Linked DNA regions of Homo sapiens. The protein of the gene in region 4 purifies or fractionates together with the protein of the main gene of each other region. This does not show direct contact. Each region holds a gene or a part of one and is shown on either strand. Other genes may lie near its edges.

Region 1 (3,670 bases), on a different chromosome or scaffold from region 4:
TAAAAGGAATCAAATCTGATATATGCTACAACATGGATAAACCTGCAGGACATTATGCTAAGTGAAATAAGACAGATACAAAAAGACAAATACTGTATGATTCCACTTATATGAGACACCAGTGTTTACACTGTATTAGGTATTAATAATCTAGAGATAATTTAAAGCAGGGGGTCCCCAACCCCAGAGCCACGGAGTGATACCAGTCCATGGCCTGTTTGGAACCAGGCTGCATAGCAGGAGGCAAGCGACCACCTGAGCTCTGCCTCCTGTCAGATCAGCAGCAGAGGCATTAGATTCTCTTAGGAGCACGAACCCTATTGTGAACTGCGCATGTGAGGGATCCAGGTTGTGTGTTCCTTGTGAAAATCTAATGCCTGAGATGATCTGAAATGAAACAGTTTCATCCCGAAATCATCCTCAGCACCCCCTGCCCTGGTCCATGGAAAAACTGTCTTCCACAAAACAGGTCCCTAGTGCCAAAAAGGTTGGCGACTGCTGATTTAAAGTATACAAAAGGATATGCACAGGTTACATGCAAATACTACACCATTTTATAGAAGGGACTTAAGCATCTGAGGATTTTGGTATCCCAGGGATCCTTAAACCAATCTCACTGAAGATACTGAGGGATGACTGCACTACTGAACTATATACTTAAAAATGGACAAGATGGTACATTTTATGTTATATATATTTCACTACACACACAAAGGAAATAGAAAACATTTGCCATATTTCCCCTAAGTCAGACAAAACCACCATAAGCTTCACAACCAGGGATCTCTTATATGAGTTTTTATTTATTTTTACAGAGTCATAGCCAAGAATCCTAATAGAATTTCTAACACTGAAATAATATGGAGTAGTCAAAAAGAAGACACTTCTAACTGAATTTCTTTTTTTTTTTGAAATGGGGTCTTGCTCTGTTGCCCAGGCTAGAATGTAATGGCACAATCATGGCTCACTGCAGCCTCAACCTCCTGGGCTCAAGTGATCCTCCCACCTCTGCCTCCCAAGTGGCTGGGACCACAGGTGCATGCCACCACACCCAGCTAATTTTTAAATTTTTGGTAAAGACAGGGTCTAGCTATATTAATCCACACTGGTCTCAAATTCCTGGGCTCAAGCAATTCTGGGTTTACGCCTCTGCTGCTAAAGGTGTCGGGATTGCCATTGTAAGCTACCATACCCGGCTTGAATTTCATAATCAAATGGAAAACTTCCACGTGAAATATTAGACGTTATTTCTTACTCTGTATGAATGATATTTTAAAAATTACTTTATGTTATAAAAAAAGTCGATAAATTCACTAGGCAACTATGGAAATAAACCAAACTAAAGAAGCATATTTAAAATCTGCATAACTCAACGCTCAAACTTGGGCATCTATTAATAAAACAGGATACCTAAATCCAAGCATGGGAAGGCAACCCCAAGCTTCACTGCTTTAACATTTCCTCACTCTCTGGAGTTTACTGAAGAAAACACTTTTCCCTTGACATGTAGGATAGAGAACCAAGCTCCCTGAAAATGGCCTGGGAACTTCTCCCACTGAGTTTTAAAAATAAACCAAGGGCCTAGTTTATACATGTGTCCTGGTCACAAGTCTTTCCCCACATATATCTGTGACTTTTCACAGATGTAGCCAGTGGGTAATCTCTGTGAAAAGCACTTTTAAAACTATAGTGCTTGGCCAGGCGCGCTGGCTCATGCCTATAATCCCAGCACTTTGGGTGGCCGAGGCGGGCGGATCACGAGGTCAGGAGATTCAGACCATCTTGGCTAACATGGTGAAACCCCGTCTGTACTAAAAGTGCAAAAAAAAAATTGGTCGGGCGTGGTGGCAGGCGCCTGTAGTCCCAGCTATTCAGGAGGCTGAGGCAGGAGAATGGTGTGAACCCAGGAGGTGGAGCTTGCAGTGAGCCACACTCTAACCTGGGCAACAGAGCGAAACTCGGTCTAAAAACAAACAAACAAACAAACAAAAACTACAGTGCTTATTAACTAAGTAGAGACATTGCTGCTGGTTTACTACTTTCAGAATGTGTGTTGCTCACCATGATGGCTGATTTATTGCAATGAAATAACTGGAGTAGAAAGCTGATTATAAAAATGATCCAAGACTAATGCAATCAGGTACAGAATTTTCCTCACAAGTACTCACTGTAAGCATTAAAGAATAAAGTACATCAAAAGCTCCCTGTTAGGCGAGATGCACTGGTTCTAAGTGGGTAAGGCTTTTCAAAGTCAACTAAAATTTCTGCAAAGTACCTTGCAAAGTTAAACCTGATAAAGGTCACTGCATGTTTTTTCACTTGGACTTAGAAACCAGATGATAGACTAGGCATGGTGGCTTACCCCTGTAATCCTAGCACTTTGGGAGGCGGAGGTGGGAGGATCACTTGAGTCCAGGAGTTTGAGACCACCCTGGTCAACATGATGAGACTATAAACAAAATTAGCCAGGCATGGGGGCACATGCCTGTGGTCCCAACTACTCAAGAGGCTGAGGCAGGAAGACCACTTGATCCCAGGAGTTTGAGGCTTCCATGAGCCCTGATCATACCACTGCACTCCAGCCTGGGAAACAGAACCAGACCTTGTCTCAAAAAATAAAAATTAATAAAAACAATTTTTTTGAGATGGAGTCTTGCTCTGTCACCCAGGCTGGAGTGCAGTGGCGTGACCTCGGGTCACTGCAACCTCCGATTCCCTGGTTCAAGCAATTCTTCTGCCTCACCTTCCCGAGTAGCTGGGACTACAGGCGTGAGGCACCACACCTGGCTAATTTTTGTATTTCTAGTAGAGATCGGGTTTCACCATGTTGGCCAGGCTAATCTCGAACTCCTGACCTCAGGTGATCCACTGGCCTTGGCCTCCCAAAGTGCTGGGATTACAGGTGTGAGCCACCGTGCCCAGCCCAATAATTTTTTTTTTTTTTAAAACGAAACCGGATGATACTGATTACACCAGAGAAATGTTGGCAAAATTTCTTATAATTCTATACAGTACATGGTTTTAATGGCTTACATCATTTTGTATCAAGATAATAATAAAAGAATTATAAAGTTACTCACAAATTATTCCCCTGTAAAAGGTTCAGCCGTCCTGAGTATTGTAACTGGAACTGATTCTACAGGAGTGAGTTACTCACTCAGAGTGAGTGCTTGTGAGGAACATTCCGTGTTGCTACAGTATCATCAGAGGCCAAAAGGAAAATACTCACCCCAGTTACCAGTTCCTCACACTGCTGCTTCTTGGATGCTAAGTCCTGAGCAGCCATCTCCAAGTCATACTGCATAAGTTCATGTTTCCTGCACACAGCCCTACAGATGAAAAAATGTGCTGCCATTTAACTTTTCCTTTAACATGTCAAACATTTTTTTCAAGGGTAGAGGAGAACCATTCACAATGTCTCGCTAGGGCAGAATGTGTGTGCCCAGAATTTTCAAGTTTAAAATGTAGTAGCCCAACATTAAAAATGGAATCTAATGGAATCTAGCAGAACCTAACCATAAAAACTTCATATATTCTTTTTTTTTTTTTTTTTTTTTTGAGACAGAGTTTTGCTCTTGTTGCCCAGGCTGGAGTGCAATGGCGCGATCTCGGCTCACTGCAACCTCCGCCTCCCGGGTTCAAATGATTCTCCTGCCTCAGCTTCCCTAGT
Region 2 (3,670 bases), about 36 Mb from region 4:
TGAACAGTTAATAAAAACCTTCTACCAGTGTTTTTATTTATCTGGGATAGGGCTGCCCATAAGGTATGCTAGTTCTATCCAGAAACCTGTCCATAGGATCAGGTTTCTCTAGCTATTTCTGTTCTTTCTTCTAATCCTAAATGCCATATAATCTCAAGGGAATTTTTAGCAGTAGTTCTGGTGTGTTAGTTAAATGGCTAATAGTGGCTATTTATGCATATCAGCCAGTAATAAATCCTCAGCCTGCCTATTCATCTGGTATGTGGAGAATTCATTTTTGTTGCCTTCAATTTTTACTATCAGAACATTTTTACAACCTTTCCAAATGAGATACAAATATGATTCCAACTGGTATTATTAATTCCCTCAACATTTACTTGTAGAAAAACACTGACAAAATGTATACCCTATGCCAAACAATAAAATTACTTCTACAAAATACATCTACATTTAAGAAAAGCTATTTACAAATCTCAATTAGCATCATCAAATACAGGTGAGAGGGATGCTTTACATGGACAGATTCACTGCATAATTTTTAATTCTACCCAATAGGTTTTCCTGCCCTCAAGACAGGATCTCACTGTCACCCACACTGGAATACAGTGGTGTGATCACAGCTCACTGCAGCTTCAGAGACCTCCAGGCCTCAAGTGATCCTCCCACCTCAGCCTCCTGAGCAGCACTCCCAAACAGCTGGAACTACAGGTGTGCACCACCACACCTGCCTAACTCCCCTTTTTATTTAACAGACAGGGTCACACTACGGTGCCTAGGCTGGTCTTGAACTCCTGGGCTCAAGCAAACGTCCTGCCTCTGCCTCCCAAAGTGCTACAATCACAGGCATGAGCCACCACGTCCAGCCTCCAAAGGGTTTTAATGTAATTTAACAGGTTAAGATTTGGTAATATCTTTTAAAACTAAAAATGTACATGTGAAAGAAAGGACTTACTCTTGAAGCCAGCAGTTTCATTTACAAGTATTTAGAAATAACTTTCCACGAACACAAAATTACATAAGTAACAAGAAACTCAATAGAACACTGTTTCCTGGTTTTTGCTTTCATAAACAATATACCAATTAATAAAGAATTAAATTACCATATAGCAACACACCTGAATACTATGCAGTTGTTAAAAAGAATGAGGCAGCTCTACATTATGTACAGATATGGATGCTCTTAGAGATGGAATGACTAAGGGATAAGGAACAAGAAAAGACTTTCATACTTCTTGAATTTTATACTGCATGTAAGTTGTCTATTCAAAAGCCAAAACATAAAAAATGCCAAAATTGTATATTTTTGGAGTCCTTATCTGTTAAAAAAATATATTTATGAATCAAATACAACATCTTGAATTTACTTTAGTGAGGATAAAAATGAAACAAGACTGGCAATGAATTGTTTGTTGAAGATTAAACAGTTGAACTGTTTAATGGAGATGGAGATACAAATAGACATTATTTTTGTAGACATAAACACACAAATGTATACATCTGTGTAACTGTATACTAGTCTATACACACAAATATATACAGACTTCCTTTACCCTCTTATAAGAAAATGAAGATACTTCCTTTGATTTCTTACCAAACCCATCATTACACAGATGAGAAAAAAAGGCCCAGAGGGGCTAATGACTGCAGAGGTTCTCAATTAAATCAATAGTCAAAAGAGACTTCATAAAAAAGACCCATACCAAACTATATTACACTACGTCTAGTGGTGGCTGCTAAACACTAAAATGCTAGGCCAGGCGTGGTGGCTCATGCCTGTAATCCCAGCAGTTTGGGAGGCCAAGGCGGGCGGATCATGAGGTCAGGAGTTCGAGGCCAGCCTGGCCAACATGGTGAAACCCTGTCTCTACTAAAAACACAAAAATTAGCCAGGCGTGGTGGCGGGCGCCTGTAGTCCCAGCTACTCAGGAGGCTGAGGCAGGAGAACTGCTTGAACCCGGGAGGCAGAGGTTGCAGTGAGCCAAGATCATGTCACTGTACTCCAACCTGGGCAAAAGAGCGAGACTCTGTTTAAAAGAACAACAACAACAAAACTAATTCACTGGCTGGGCGCGGGGGCTCACACCTGTAATCCCAGCACTTTGGGAGGCTGAGGTGGAAATAGCAAATGTTTATCTCACGGTGTGCTGAGGACTAAACTTAAACAATGCCTTTAACCTGTAAGAAATCTGTGCAAATGATACAAAGTGGCTTGGAGACCATAACCCATGAAATACAGTTGAGGCAACTAGAAAGGTTTAATTGGTGCAGGGATGGAAGAAAACTGCCATTACATGAAACCTGCCTTTAAATATCTGAATGGCTGTCATGATAAGAAAACAAACTTCGCCGGGTGTGGTGGCTCATGCCTGTAATCCCAGCACTTTGGGAGGCCGAAGCGGGTGGGTCATCAGGTCAGGAGATTGAGACCATCCTGGCTAACACAGTGAAACTCCGTCTCTACTAAAAATACAAAAAAATGAGCCAGGCGTGGTGGCGGGCATCTGTAGTTCCAGCTACCCGGGAGGCTGAGGCAGGAGAATGGCGTGAACCCGGAAGGCGGAGCTTGCAGTGAGCCAAGATCACACCACTGCACCACGGCCTGGGTGACAGAGCAAGACTCCATCTCAAAAAAAAAAAAGAATACACACATGAAAAATGCTTATCATTAGTTGCTAGGGAAACACAAAAGGTAAATTCCTTAATATACCAAGAATCCTTACACATCAGTAAGTCCAATGTCCCAGTAGAAAATGGCGCTAGGGGCCAGGCACAATGGCTCAGGCCTATAATGCCGGCTCTTTGGGAGGCCGAGTCAGGCAGATCACTTGAGGCCAGAAGTTCGAGACCAGTGTGGCCAACATGGTGAAACCCTGTCTCCACTAAAAAGACAAAAAAAACCCAGCCAGGCGTGGTGGCACATGCCAGTCGTCCTCGCTACTTGGGAGGCTGAGGCACAAGAATTGTTTGAACCCAGGAGGCAGAGGTTGTAGTGAGCTGAGATAGCACCACTGCACTCCAGCCTGGGCAACAGAGCAAGACTCTGCCTCAAAAATAAATGAATAAATAATAAGCCAAGAACACAAAGAAGCAATTCATTAAAATATATATCTATAATGAATTAAATAACTTATGAAGGATACTCAATTTCACTCACAATTAAAACTCAAAGTAAAACAAAGCTGAACTATATTTATATAAGCCCTCGGTATGTGCCTGGTAGTATTCTAAATACTTTCTATTAATTTATTTTATCTCAAAGCAACCATCAGGCCAGGTGCGGTGGCTCACGCCTGTAATCCCAGCACTTTGGGAGGCAGAGGTGGGCAGATCACGAGGTCAGGAGATCGAGACCAGACTAGCTAACACGGTGACACCCCATCTCTACTAAAAAATACAAAAAATTAGCCGGGCGTAGTAGCACACACCTGTAGTCCAAGCTACTTGGGAGGCTGAGGCAGAAGAATCGCTTGAACCTGGGAGGCAGAGGTGGCAGTGAGCCCCGTCGACAGAGCGAGACTCAGTCTCAAAAAAAAAAAGAAAAAGGAATAACAGGGACATAGCAGTACGTGCTTATAGTCCCACCTAGAGCTACCCAGGGCACTGTGGCCAGCGGTTCATTTGAGGCTGCTGTTATGATCACACCTGTGTGAGTAGCCACGCACTCCAGCCT
Region 3 (3,670 bases), on a different chromosome or scaffold from region 4:
ACCCTGTTTTACTTTATCTTGAGTCAGCATATTTTCATAAAACATAAAATACTATAATTTCAAATTTCAGAAGATCTAAAATAAATTTAAATATTTATATACTTAAATTTCCAGTTCTCAGAATTGGAACTTTATTCTCCATGAATATTCTAATTATAATATTTTAAAAGTCAGGATTATTTTATGTGACAGATAAAATTACAGTGATGTTAAAGGATACACTTAAACATAGTAATTAAAACCCTTGTCTCTTGGGTCAAGTGCATAATAGCCTATATGACCTTAGGCAAGTTGCCTAACCTCTCAGCCTCAGTTACCTAACCCATAAATTGAGGATATTATTACTACCTACTGCATAGGGTACACTGTTAAAATATTTAAAAGATAAGATACACATAAACTGTTTATTTAGGTGCCTGGCACATATGTAGTTAATAAATAAGTTCCAAATATTTTTTTAAATAAAACTTCTTTATATACATGGATACACATAGTGAGTTCTCAATTATGGAAACAAGATTTTCCATAAAAACAATTCTAGGCTGGGCTCAGTGGCTCACGCCTGTAATCCCAGCACTTTGGGAGGCCGAGGTGGGCAGATCGCGAGGTCAGGAGTTCAAGACCAGCCTAGCCAACACGGTGAAACCCCGTTTCTACTAAAAATACAAAAAAAAAAAAATAGCCAGGTATGGTCTGGCGCCTGTAATCCCAGCTACTCGGGAGGCTGAGGCAGGAGAATCGCTTGAACCCGGAAGGCGCAGGTTGCAGTGAGCCAAGATCGCGCCACTGCACTCCAGCCTGGGCAACAAGAGTGAAACTCTGTCTCAAAAGAAACAAAAAAAAAACTATAGGTCAGTAGTCAATTCAATATCTCTAAGTTCCTTTTAAAACACAAATCTGATGTTATCAGTAAAAATGAAGGACAAGGATGTTTCAGAAAACTACACAATATATTATCCGGGCCACAAAAGAAACATCTTTGATTAGAAACATCAAGCCTAGACCCTATGCCATTTTAAAGTATGACTTTAAAACACATCTTTCTGCCACTCTACCACAAACCCCCATACTGAGGCCTTTCCTCAAGCTATTACAGCATAGGATTACATACCACAGCTTAACTTTACATGGTTAATGTTACTATTTTTCCAAGAACTTACCATGATGCCAAAAAAAAAAAATACAGATTTTTAAAATTCCTCTATCTATTCACAAGAGATTAAGCAACAATCAAGACACCAAAAAAAAAAGACTGCTCAGTAGCTCACACCTGCAATCCCAGCACTTGCGGAGGCCAAGGCAGGAGAATTGCTGGAGCCCACAAGTTTGAGACCACCTTGGGCAAGAGGGAGACCCTGTCTCTACAAAATGTTTAAAAATTAGCCAAACGTGGTGGTAAATATCTGTGGTCCCAGCTACCTGGGAGGCTAAGATGGAAGGACTGCTTGAGCCAGGGAGGTTGAGTCTACAGTGAGCCCTGTTCACAACCACTGCAAACTCCAGCCTAGGCAAGAGTGAGACCCTGACTCGAAAAAAAAAAAAAAAAAAAGAGAGAGAAGGAAAAAAAACAACAAAATAATCAAGATACAAAAGATGTTGGAAGTAAAAAGAACATTTACTGTGCAATTATTGTGTGCAAAACACCTATGCTTTAGAAATTATCTAAATTATCACTCAACAGAAAGGAAAGGAGCTTCTGAAAAATTAAGTAACTTGATCAAGATTTCACAACTACTGACAGGACCTACAGAGAAATTCATACCTGATTCCAAAACACTATCTAAAAATATATGTCCCCTCCCAAAAATAATGTTTAAAAACATGCTCCACTTATTCAAAACCTCCGCTGCTTAAAACCTCAGGAAGCAGTTGCTATCACGGTAAAAATCTGATCAGTTCAATCCATTTTATTTTTTTGAGACAGCATCTTGCTATATTGCCCAGGCTGGACTTGAACTCCTGGTCTCAAGAGATCCTTCTGCCTCAGCCTCCTAAGTACCTGGGATTACAAGCACGCACTACTACTGTGCCTAGCTTCAGTTTTATTTTTTAATTTCTATTCTAACTCAGGAATAAAACACATTCCTTTGCTAAAATATGGAAGAACAATTATTTTCTAGTACAATAATTGGAAAAATGCCAAAATAGGGAAGAACAAAATGATTTTCTAGTACAATGAATTAACTGAAAAAATATGAACAAGATCTCAGGAGTCAGAGTGAGAATGCTATTCGTGAGGGCACAGAAACCAGCCCCATCTGAATAATGTCAAGGATGAGGAGAAAAATACAAAATGTGGCCAATTTAGACTCGAAAGAGGAATTTGACTTAATAACCAAGAAACACCACACGTTTTGCAAAATTGAAGGAATAAAGGGACAAAGATTCTTCCCTGAGTTTTCAACAAATTGAAATTAATACCTAGAGGAAGAATAGACGTTACCTGAAATTATGGAATGTAAAAGTAATATATACCTATGATTATTTTATGTTCCAATTTTTTAAATAATGAAAATATTACAGTATGAAAATTGTCCATAAGTACTGGAAAACTTTATATCAAGAGCAAAATAAGACTCAAATTCATCAGTAGTTAGCTTTCCGATTATTTTTTTCCTCCTGTGTTATGATGTATATTTTGGCCAACCGATCTGCTTTAAGTTAGCACTTTCCCTCTTAGGTAGGTAAAAAGAAAAGAGAGCAATCTACTGCTAGTAACTTGGATTAAGAGGCTTGATAACAAAGTATACTGAAATTATTGGAAATGCTTTCAAATTAATGTAATTTTATCAATAACTACCTCTTAATTGGAGCCAATAATTGAGATCTAAAAATATAGAAATCACAGTTATTGTCCTTTAGACACAAGTTCTGAGAAAGTCATGAACTTGAAAAACTTCAACCCATTATACACTTCAAAATTAGTGATTCAAAAAAAAGAAAAAAATTTAGTGATTCAAATGAGTTATTAATTACCATTCCATTTACAAGAAGATATATATGTCACTGTTGCCTTTAAACAGTTTTCAGCTTCCAATATACAGGATCATCTCAGTTTATGAAGCAAAGGTGTTTTTGCAGTTTTTTAAAGTATATATATTGTCATACCTTTGCGGTTAAAAAGAAATTGTTATTTAAAGGACTACTGTGGAACACATACTTCTGAAATACAAATAATTATTCTGTCTTAGCAGTAAGTAGATGTCAAACTGTATCAGGCAGTAAAATAGAATAGTGAGGAATGTTTCCTAAAAGGTAGTCTTGAGCTTAATTTAATCTGGGGGTGGGGGGGAATGAACATTTATTAAGTGTCCACTATGTTCCAAGCCCCAGAAATAGAACTAGTAACAACAGCCACCATTTCCTCAGCTCTTACGCTTGCTACAAGGCACTGTACCAATACTTCCTATGGATTCACTCATTTAATTCTCCTCTTAACCTATGAGGTTAATAAAAGCGTATTCCAAAAACGTGAGATAACTGGAATATCTATTTAAGATTACAAGAGTTAGAATCAATAAGACTAGCAAGGCTTAGAAAGCCAAAAAATACAGCTTGAAGCATAACAGAAGCTGAGAGCAAATAAGTACCATGGAGCTGGTTTTGCTAGTAGACAGCCAATGTGCAGCCTTCCAGAAATTTAGTTATAACCCAGACAACTAAATTAAAT
Region 4 (3,583 bases):
GCTATATTTCACTATACATGCTATAATTCAATATACATGATAATGCAGCCAAAAGCTATTATGTATAGATTCATGTACATTTAAAATAATACTATTCTCAATAAAATTTTAAAAGAAAATCTGGCTTTTTTTCATAAAGACTGTTATTTATGTTAATATACAGTGGGTTTATTGTTATTTTTAAACAAATATTTTTATGTAGCCTACATAAGTTTATTGGAGTCCTCAATTAAGAGTGTAAAGACCAAAAGTCTGAGAGCCACTACTCTAGAATACACCAAAGACAGTTTTTAAGAAACTCTGTATTTTGAAATAATTATGGATTCACAGGAAGTTGCAAAGATATTAGTTTCTCAGTGCCCTTTATCCAATCCTCCCAATGGTCACATCTTATCTACCTATAATCCAATATCAAAACCAGGAAATTGATATTAATATGATGTGTGTGTATAGTTCTATGCCATTTTATCATATGTACACATATTTATTTAAACACCACCATAATCAAAAGGCAGAACCATTCTTTAACTGCAATGATCTCCTCCCTGCTACCCCTCTATTGTCATACCTACTCCCCTAAAGTCTTCTTTCCCTAATACCTGGTAACCATCAATATGTTGTTCATCTCTACAGTTTTATTATTTTGAAAATATTATAAAGTGAGATCATACAGTATGTGACCTTTTGAGATTCTCTTTTGTCACTCAGCAAAATGCCTTTGAGAGATGTCCAAGTTGTTTTTTACTGCTCATCAGCACTGCGTGATATGGAGGTACCATAGTTTAACCATTCACCTATTGCTAAGACATTTTAGTTGGGACTTCTGGGATATTACAAAGAAAGCTTTTATTAATAACTGTGTACAAGTTTCTGTGTGGACCTGAGCTTTCATTTCTCTGGGATGTCCAGGAGTATAATTGCTGGGTTGTACGGTAACTGTATGTTTAGTTTTTAAGATATTGCCAAAATATTTTTTAGAGTGACTGTACCATTTTATATTCCTACCAACAATGTATGAGAGATCCAGTTCCCAAACATCTTTGTCAGCATTTGGTATTGTTACCATTTTTAAATTTTAGCCATCCAAATATGTAGTGATATATTGTGGTTTTAATATGCATTTCCCTAATAGTCACTAAGTCAATGTTGATCAACTTTCCTTGTGCTTATTTGCTATTTGTATATCCTGTCTGTTGAAATGACTATTCTTTTGCCCATGGTTTAAATTGGATTGTTAGGTTTTATTTTTATTTGCTTTTAACATAGAGTTTTGAGAGTTCTTTATGTACTTCAGAGACAGGTCATTTGCTGGATTTGTAATTTGCAAAGAATTTCTCCCAGTCTGTATTTTAATTCCCCTAACAGTGTCTTTCATAAACAAAAGTTTTACATTTTGATGGGGCCCAATAAATCAGTTTTTTATTTTATGGATCACGCTTTTGATGTCATATCTGAGAACTCATTTCCTAGTCCTAGGTCCCTAGAGTTTCTCCTGTAGAAAAGCTTTATAGTTTTATATTTTACATTTTAATCTATAAGTAATTTTGTGTTAATTTTTGCATAAAGTATAAGATTTAAGTCACAATTCATTTTTTGCCTGTGGATATCCAACTGTTCCAGCACAGGTTAAAAAGACAATTCTACCTGTATTGAATTATTTTTGCATTGTCAAACGTCAGTTGGTGTACTTGTGCAGAGTTATTTCTGTGCTATCCATCTATAAGTCTATGCCTCTGACAATAACACAGTCTTGAATACTGTGGCTATGTCTTGAAATCAAGTAGTGATTTCTCTTACACTTTTTCAAAATTTTTTATAGTTCCTTTATTTTTCCATTTTAAAAAATTCTCCATTTCTAAATTTTAGAATCATCTCATTCATATTTATAAAAAATCATGCTCGATTTTTCATAGGAATTACATTAAATTTATATATCAACTAGGAGAGAATTGACGTTTTTACTATGCTGTGTCTTCAAATCCATGAATATGGTATGTCTCTCCAGTTTTTAGGGCTTTTCTTTTCCTTTGTCAGTATTTTATAATTTTCATTTCACATATCCTTATATATTTTGTTAGGTTTATAAATTTTTTCATATATTTTATAAGTATTTTTTATAGATTTACATATTTTACATATATTTACATGCATTTTTGTGTATTTTAATTTTGGGGGGCAATCTAGTTTGGTGTCAGGCTAATACTGACTTCACAGAATGAGTTGGAACATCTTCCCTCCTCTTCTAGTTTTTAAAAGCATGTAAAATTGATGTTCTTTAAATGTTCAGTGGAAACCTTCAGTGTAGCCATCTGGGCCTGGATATTTCTTTTTCATGAGCTTTCCAATCATTAATCAAATATTTTTAGTGGTTATAGGACTATTTTATTACTTATTTCATGTTGGCTGAGTTTGGTTGGTAGTTTGTGGTTTTGGGGAAATTAATCCATTTCTCCTAAGTTGTCAAATTTATGAGCATAAATTTGTTTGTAATATTCCCTCCCTTGTTATCTTTTAACGGCCTTAGGATCAGTAGTGACATCTCATTACATTCCGGATACTGATGATTGCATCTTCTTTTTATCTTTTGATAGTCTTGTTTGAAGTGTATCAATTTTATTGAAATTTTCAAAGAACTGGCTTTTGGCTTCATTGATTTTGTTTGCTTGTTTTCAGTTACACTGATTTCTGTTATTATTTCCTTCTTTCTGCTTGCTTTAAGATCAGTTTGCTTGGCTTTAAAATTGTAAATTCAATTTCTTTAATGGTTATAGGACTATTCAGATTATTTTATTTTGGTTGAGCTGTAGCTTTACGCTACTGATTTAAGAACAATCCTCTTTTCTAATGTAATCATTTAGTGCTATAAATATCCTTATCAATACTTCTTTAACTGCATCCCACAAATTTTGATGTGTTGTATTTTCATTCATTTCTGTGTAATAGGTTTAATTTCTGTCAAGACTTTTTCTTGAACCATAAATTTAAGAATGCTGTGTAATTCCCAAAAATCTGGAAATTTTGTTGTCTTTTATTGGTTTCTAGTTAGATTCATTTATGGTCAGAAAACACACATTGTATTATTTCAATCCTCTTGAATTTGGTCAGATTTGCTTTGTGACTCAAGATATAATCTATCTTTGCAAATCTTCCATAGATGCTTGAAAAAAGTGTATATTCTGCTATTGTTGGTAGAGTTCTCTATAAATGTCAACTCAATCCTGTTGGTTGGTGGTGGCGTTTAGTTACAAAATCATCCAACTACCTCATTTTCAAATAAAATCTCTTAGGCTAAAGAATACTAAACAGTGTGGCAACATGTTTAAGCCAAAACCACACCTAGAGTCCTGAATTCTAGTCTAGAACACCATTTTGACATACTATATCTACTTAAGCAATTAGGAACATAATACTTAGCTATCTCTTAATCAAATATGTACTGCCAAAATAAGGGATTAAGAGACTGGGGATAATAGCTTGTAAACTACAAGTGATTATTATCCTAATATAGTTTTTTAATAATCAGGAATTTGCCTAGACCAAACATAATCTTCAAGGAAAATGTCACAATGACATGCTTAACATA

What was found. The genes of interacting proteins can lie anywhere in the genome.
Region 1: the proteins of C10orf88 (region 4) and SNX4 purify together in Homo sapiens (affinity purification with mass spectrometry; one large-scale study listed by BioGRID and IntAct). This does not show direct contact.
Region 2: the proteins of C10orf88 (region 4) and WAPL purify together in Homo sapiens (affinity purification with mass spectrometry; one large-scale study listed by BioGRID and IntAct). This does not show direct contact.
Region 3: the proteins of C10orf88 (region 4) and NCKAP1 purify together in Homo sapiens (affinity purification with mass spectrometry; 2 studies listed by BioGRID and IntAct, with this or other methods). This does not show direct contact.

Annotation. Positions count from the first base shown.
Region 1 is NC_000003.12:125,454,037-125,457,706, forward strand, and holds part of SNX4 (sorting nexin-4), read right to left. Parts: intron 3,330-3,670; coding exon 3,230-3,329; intron 1-3,229. UniProt on the Homo sapiens protein: Involved in the regulation of endocytosis and in several stages of intracellular trafficking. Plays a role in recycling endocytosed transferrin receptor and prevent its degradation.
Region 2 is NC_000010.11:86,501,127-86,504,796, forward strand, and holds part of WAPL (wings apart-like protein homolog), read right to left. Parts: intron 1-3,670. UniProt on the Homo sapiens protein: Regulator of sister chromatid cohesion in mitosis which negatively regulates cohesin association with chromatin. Involved in both sister chromatid cohesion during interphase and sister-chromatid resolution during early stages of mitosis.
Region 3 is NC_000002.12:183,028,292-183,031,961, forward strand, and holds part of NCKAP1 (nck-associated protein 1), read right to left. Parts: intron 1-3,670. UniProt on the Homo sapiens protein: Part of the WAVE complex that regulates lamellipodia formation. The WAVE complex regulates actin filament reorganization via its interaction with the Arp2/3 complex. Actin remodeling activity is regulated by RAC1.
Region 4 is NC_000010.11:122,933,769-122,937,351, forward strand, and holds part of C10orf88 (ATPase PAAT), read right to left. Parts: intron 1-3,583. UniProt on the Homo sapiens protein: ATPase that regulates mitochondrial ABC transporters ABCB7, ABCB8/MITOSUR and ABCB10. Regulates mitochondrial ferric concentration and heme biosynthesis and plays a role in the maintenance of mitochondrial homeostasis and cell survival.